Linked DNA regions of Homo sapiens. The protein of the gene in region 2 purifies or fractionates together with the protein of the main gene of each other region. This does not show direct contact. Each region holds a gene or a part of one and is shown on either strand. Other genes may lie near its edges.

Evidence for each region. Proteins that work in one complex are often made in the same cells at the same time.
Region 1: the proteins of ELAVL2 (region 2) and ZNF326 purify together in Homo sapiens (affinity purification with mass spectrometry; 2 studies listed by BioGRID and IntAct, with this or other methods). This does not show direct contact.

What each region holds. Positions count from the first base shown.
Region 1 is NC_000001.11:90,008,608-90,012,261, forward strand, and holds part of ZNF326 (DBIRD complex subunit ZNF326), read left to right. Parts: intron 1-1,480; coding exon 1,481-1,679; intron 1,680-3,654. UniProt on the Homo sapiens protein: Core component of the DBIRD complex, a multiprotein complex that acts at the interface between core mRNP particles and RNA polymerase II (RNAPII) and integrates transcript elongation with the regulation of alternative splicing: the DBIRD complex affects local transcript elongation rates and alternative splicing of a large set of exons embedded in (A + T)-rich DNA regions.
Region 2 is NC_000009.12:23,690,241-23,693,894, reverse strand, and holds part of ELAVL2 (ELAV-like protein 2), read left to right. Parts: intron 1-408; coding exon 409-447; intron 448-579; coding exon of another isoform or gene 580-601; exon of another isoform or gene 602-693; intron 694-1,007; coding exon of another isoform or gene 1,008-1,010; coding exon 1,011-1,338; 3' UTR 1,339-3,654.

The DNA of each region.
Region 1 (3,654 bases), on a different chromosome or scaffold from region 2:
ATCATTTAAAGAGTATTGTATTTTTGTTATAATGTAAGAATCCTTTTAAGTCAGCTGCTCTTAATATTTTATTTGCAGAGGAAAGTATTTCTAGTAAAAAAGGTAGTAGGGTACACGTTTTTGACTGGTTATTAGCTTTTGATATGTCAGTGTAGCTTGTTATACTTGTGTAGAAATTTTGCATTTTTAACAGTTACTCTTTACTTATGTAAAAATGCATTGCACCTTTAATGCGTAATTAAGGAAGATTTTCCTGTTGTGACTTTTTAAATTACCTGGAAACACAACTAGGTTAGATAGGCATTCCTGAGCATAGTATACAAATGTAAGCAACTGATACATTACAGTTCCACTATACTTCATGATCATAGGTTAATTGAAAATAGTTGGGATGATAGGCTTTGGGTTTTGAATTGAAAATCCATTCTAGTTTGAAAATTTGGAAAACACTTAATATTTTCCATGCTGTATATTATTTTAGACAAAGTGTGTTTTCTTAATGAGGCTTCAAAAGTAAATTTCGTTTTCATAATAAACAAGTATTCCTGTACTTTGTATTTACCATTCTAGTCTGAATGGACTTTTCTTTCTTTCCTCCTGTTAGTGAAGTAGATGAGCCAATAGGACCTACATTTTAAATCTTCACTTGTACAATTCCCCTTGGGTCCTTCTCTTCAGATTACTCCTCCATCTTTATCTTCTAAAAGTAAGATTAGCAGAATAAATTTCTGTGGACATGTGGCCTCTTGGTGTAGTAGATTTGGATAATGACAAGAGAAGAGGAAGGGACACAAAGAGTCGTTTGGTTGCATGACTCTTCATCTGTAAACTTTTGTTTCTTGGGCTTCTGGGTCAGAAAATGTTTCTCTAGGTAAGAATGTGAATGGAACGTCAGATGCAATTCTTTATCTGAAGTGTGTCTTGGAAGTTGATGCATGGTTATGCTTTAACTCTCCTATTTCATACTAATGTTCCATCTCGCCTTCTCATTCCCTTTTTCAACAGGGAGAATACTAAATGATTTCTGGATCTTTTTTACTTCAAACTACAAATATGGTCTTCTTTGTGTATCTTAGTTTTAGTAAAATAAAGATTTCTTTTAGGGTCTTTTCATGGGAAAACATCAATTAGGAACTCTGAAGAGGAGTTGTCAGAGAGTTGTACAAGTGGTAACATTTGGACAGGCACATATGTTGTCTATAATCTCAAGTAATTTTGAAATGTAAAAGTAAAAACATAGTTAGCAAATATTCATTATTTGTTCTACTGGAAATAAAAATACTAATTCAATGGATTTGAGTTTATGTAATAATTTACAGAGTTTTTCAATGTGTTTTTTCAGAATGGACATGTAAAATTTAGTTACATTCCAGGGAATTTTCAGGTGAAAATTAGTAGATAGTTAACATGAAAATTTTATATGAATTCATATTTTTTCTTGGACAATATGCTAATATTTATTGATTTCACAAATTTACAGCATATGGGTGATTTTGGAAGCATTCATAGACCCGGAATTGTTGTTGACTATCAAAACAAATCCACCAATGTGACAGTTGCTGCTGCAAGAGGAATAAAGAGAAAAATGATGCAGCCATTTAATAAGCCCAGTGGAACCTTTATCAAGAAACCCAAACTAGCAAAACCTATGGAGAAGATAAGCCTCAGCAAATCACCCAGTAAGTAAGAAAACATAATTGCTATGATTCAGGATACTTTTTATTTTTTAAAATTCCATACTTTTTGGTAATTTTTTCATGTTTATATACAGAAACTACATAACAATTATGATTGTAGAAGTTAGATCTGTAAATCCCCTATTGCAGTTAATAATTGGTCATGAATACCCAAAGATACTTTTAAAATGTACATAACCTGGTCCATTCCTTTTTCCTGAATCCTTGTGGTTGTGTATCAAACCCTCTACAGCTGAGAAAACAGGCACAGAATAGATAAATAATTTGCTGCCTAAGTCAAACAACCAGTGAATGGTAATGCCAGTATTTATTCCAGAGCAAGTCATGCTCTAGAAGTCCTGTTCTTAAACCTCCATATGATTGTAACAGAAATTTGCTTTGTATTCATTTTTCCCTTTTATTTTAAAATAACTTTTTCCCTAATTATGACATTATAGACATTTTAATATGTAATATTTGAAAAAACTGAAATTGCAATGTTAGATTCTTTCCTCAAAATATATTTTCTATAATATAAAATTTGAAAAAGGTTTAAAAGGTGTACTTAAATTACTTTCTCATCAGGCCTTATTGTTTAATAAGAAACAATATTCTGGAATTTCTGGAGTTCTGGAAACCTGATACTAAGCAGAGTATGTGTTGTGGGGATACCTTTAACAGTGTGTCAATTGATAGACTGTTATGTATCAAATTTGACATTTTATTAGACATTACTATAATAGAAAATTCAGTTGATTCTCTTGGGACCTATTTCAAAGATATATTTTGCACGTATGGTTAAATATTGCAAAAGTTTGATAAAGAAACTGATTTGCCCTTAAAGCAGATATATATGTATCCCTCCCCCATACCCCCTTTTTATATAACAAAACTTGAGAAAAGTGTTGTGTAGCTAAGAATGAAACTAAAATTCTTTAAATTATGCCTTCTCTGTCAGGTGTAAAATGGGCATTTAAAAAGATGATTGCTGAATTTTCCTCAATACAAGGTCTTGCTATGCTATAGTATAGACTATGTGACTTTATAGAAAATTAGTAGGAAAGGAACCCTATTCTGTCACTTGGCTAGAAGTACAACATGTCATAGTTTTAGCATATGAAAGGAAGATTAAATTACTTATTTGAGGTAATATATAAATAAGTAGATTTTTCAAAGGCCATCCAAAAGGATAAGCAGTGCATAAAAGGAAAAATTTAAGGGCAAATAGTTAAGTTTTTTTTTTTTTTTTTTTTTTAAGTATAAAGTTAAATGTATTATAAGAAAGAACCTGCTCACAGTGAGTTACCACTCCATACCCACTTGGATGGTCATAATAAAAAAAGGAAAATAACAAATGTTGACAAGGATATGGAGAAATTGAAACCCTCACACATTACTGATGGGAATGTAAAGCAGTGAAGCCACTGTGGGAAGCAGATTGGTGCTTCCTGAAACAATTAAACATAGACTGTCCATATGATCCAGCAATTCCACTTCTAGGTATTCTTCTATTCCAAAGAATTTAAAGTAGTATTCCAACAAAAATTTATTTATTTATTTATTTTTATTTTTGAGACAGGATCTTACTCTGTTGCCCAGGCTGGAGTGCAGTGGTGCAGTCTTGGCTCACTGCAACCTCTGCCCCTGGGTTCAAGCGATTCTCGTTCCTCAGCCTCCTGAGTAGCTGGGACTACAGATGTGCACCACCACGCCCAGCTAATTGTTGTATCTTGAGTAGAGATGGTTTCGCCATGTTGGCCAGGCTGTCTTGAACCCCTGGCCTCAAGTGATCCATCCGCCTCAGCCTTCCAAAGTGCTAAGATTACAGGCATGAGCCACTGTGCCTGGTCCAAACAAAAATTTATATATGAATGTTTATAGTAGCATTATTCATAATTGCCAAAAGGTAGAAACAATTGAAATATACATCAACAGAAGAATGGTTTAAAAAATGTGGGTTATTCATACAATGGAATAT
Region 2 (3,654 bases):
TTAAACCCTGTGTGCCTTAGGTATCTGCAGGCACCAACAGAGTTGTGAAAATCAAAAGTAGTATAAAGAACATGTAGCTATACATTGATCACTTTGAAGCTACCTGATGAGAACCCTAAAGTTAACTATCCCAGAGCTTTCGCACTTCCTCTCTGAAAGGTATCCTCAGATGACCGTCACTGTGTCCCATGTACTGACCCTTGTAGAGAGAAACCATTCATTGGAAGAACTGTCCTGTGGCAGTCGGTGCCCATTAGCTTAAAAACGTAAAAAGACCCAGCATTCTGAGTCTTCACATATAATCAGTGTACAGATATCCCCTCGGAAGATGGCAGTAATGAGCCCAACTTTCTTGAACATCAAGGGGAAAAATTAAAAACTGAAGTTTGCTAAATGTGTGTTTTGCAGGTTGGACAATCTGCTCAATATGGCTTATGGAGTAAAGAGGTAATGATAGAGGTTCATGATACTCATAATCCCTTTCCACAGTTGATTGGTTTCTTTGATTTTGGGAGTGCTATTCACACCCCTCATAAGTTTTTGTTGGGTTTTATTTTGCATGTGCAACCTAATGAAAAGCTGCTCTTTGAAGCACAATTGACTCAAGAAATTTTTATACCACCGGATGCCACCTGGTCTTTTAAAAACCCATCATTTGTTTCGTATTGCGTTACGACGTTACAGCATGTTTACGTATGTGTTGATCCCTTCCCCTGCCAATCCTGCTTAATTCATGAAGCCAGTTCTAAATATATTTCTTTGCTATTGTGGATGATATTCAGTACAGTGAATAATGGTCATTTCATAACTTATTAATATCTCAGTAGTCTAGCATGTCACTGCAAAGCCACACACAGACCTTGGTCAAAACATGAAATAGTTTATATATTTGTTGGGGGAGGAGAGTTACTAAAATTCTTGGGGATGGAAAAGGTATACGTTCATTGCTATAACCAACCTCTGTTTTTATTTTTTGTGTGTATGTGTGTATTTCCTATTCTGTTTAGCAGGTTTTCTCCAATGACCATTGACGGAATGACCAGTTTGGCTGGAATTAATATCCCTGGGCACCCTGGAACAGGGTGGTGTATATTTGTGTACAACCTGGCTCCTGACGCAGATGAGAGTATCCTGTGGCAAATGTTTGGGCCTTTTGGAGCTGTCACCAATGTGAAGGTCATCCGTGACTTTAACACCAATAAATGCAAAGGTTTTGGATTTGTGACTATGACAAACTATGATGAGGCTGCCATGGCGATAGCTAGCCTCAATGGATACCGTCTGGGAGACAGAGTACTGCAGGTCTCCTTTAAGACAAACAAAACGCACAAAGCCTAATGAGCTCTTGTCCTCAGTCCATTTATATATGAAAACTATACAACAAAGGCAAGTTAAGAGAAACTTTATACATTAGTAAATGTCTTTGTAAGTCAGTGTTGAGATGGGGATAAAATGACTACTTAGCATCCTAAGAAATATGTGAGATTTTTTATTGCTAGTATTTGAATTAAAACTTCTTAAATATCTTTTATGTTTGAATATGGACAAGAGGTACAGGGTTTTTACCTGTCACATTGCATTCTATTGCCTTCTTTGAAGAAGGTGGACCTTTTAAAGTGTTTCAGCTAAGGGAAGACATTTCTTTTCTTTTTACATAACTGCCTTGAACCTGTGAGTAAATATTGAGGCTTTGTGTTGTAATTCTTCAGTTGGTTGTGTCTTTTTTTTCCCCCCTTTTTTTCCTTTTTCTGATTAGCTTTGTGTTTGGTTTACATTTAAAGCATTGCTGTTATGTCTGTTTAAGAAAAGTATTTTGAAGTTTACATTTTTATTTATGAAGTTTAAAACAGTATTTATTTTGTAATTATGATTTGGGTTGGGGAAGGGGGGGCTACATTATAAACGCTTATTGTAAGAATACTGGAGAACTTTTCGTAAAGCAGTACCTTGCCAAAGAGATAAGAGCCTCTTTGATGTGGGTTTAAAAAAAGCATCTATTTTTATAAAAAAGAAAATTTGGAGAAACTTTTTACTGGTCCTGGAACAAATATTTTGACTTGAATACTTTGAGAAATCTCTTCATATGACACCTAGTGAGCTTTTAAAATTTACCAGGAAATTTGCAGCGGTTGGAAAATTTAGAAAGATTTATGGTGTAGAAAATACTTTTGAGATCTTTGTATGAAAGGAGTAGAATCAATGGGGGGAAACACTGCTGGTTTCATTTTTGTAATCACCAGTGGAGCGTCTGATCATCCTGGTTATTATGTGATAGGTGGCTCACATTGATTTGTGATTTTGAAACAAATAAAAAAAATTTACAAAAGAATATATAAGAGCAGGCAAGAAATTTAAATTACCGAGAGATGGGGGAAAAAATCTGTTCTTCCTAAAGAAATCCCTTCAGATAGAGCTCATGGTGTTTAGTGATGTACTTGCAGTATTGTTTGAAGAATTGTTTTGTCTTAAGGAAAAAAGACGTTGCACATGATTTGTACTGCAGCAAATCAGCAAAAGTGATCTGAGTTGGATATATTTGAAGGTATTTTGAAAGTTACGTTCAAGGCTAACACCTGAGCTTTGTGTAATGTAAATAAGACCTTGTGTTTATGAACCTTTCAGCTAATTTAATTTTTTTTCCCTTACATGCCAAGTGATGTTCAGGTTTTGAATGTTTTTGTATCAGTTTTTTCCTTTGTAAATGGCATTAACATTGTTACTTGAGGTCTTGCTTAATCACTTTTGTTGTCCTGAGGACTTGAATTTACAGTGCATCAGATTTGTTGCAAATTTTGTCTGTAGATAGTCTAGCTTCAGCTGTTTATGGTGATGCTACATTTTGGTTTATAAATATGTTTGTGGTATAAAAAAATGAGTATAACCATAGGTTTTGAACAAATTTCCTTACATTTTTCATACAAAAATCATAAATATCTGTATGCTATTGAAATTTAACTTTGTATGATGCTTAAAAACCACTATTTGGGGAAATAATAAAATAAGTCTTTACCATGTATGAAAGAAATTTTAAAAAATACAAAATATTTTCTGATTAGCATCTAGCTTATAATAAATTTTCAAAAAAGCTGAAGGCAAAAATGCCTTCATCAGGATGCACTGAGAACTATATAGTTACGTCCTGCTTTTTGTATAAACTGAGATGCTCACATGCTTCCCCTTAGAACAGGCAATGTGCTATGCATAACATAGTTGTACATTATCTTTGCGGTTGCTTTGAGTTTTATTTTTTATTATTTAAAATTGTAGTTATAAAATTTTTCAGTATAGTACAGTACATATACTGTGAGGCGCGTGCTAAAGTGAATAAGCGAGTTTTCATGCTGACCCACTCAATGCTATTCAGAAATCAATTGGCTTAGCACTTTCTCATATCCTTAGGTGCATTTAGATTGCCAGAGTTAACCTTCTGCGTTTAAAAAAAGAAAAACACTAAAAAATAAAATACATGTATATACTTAAAAAAAAATAATAAGGTTTCCCTCAAGGGAAAACAGCAGCTACATGCTTCTTTCCTATACTACTGTAGCAAACCAAGGCATTGATGAGAGGGCATGCAAATTGTGCTTCACTTTACAGTGTTTTATCAGAGCACTTAATAAAATGTAAGGCTGGTATTTATTTGAAGTTGTACAG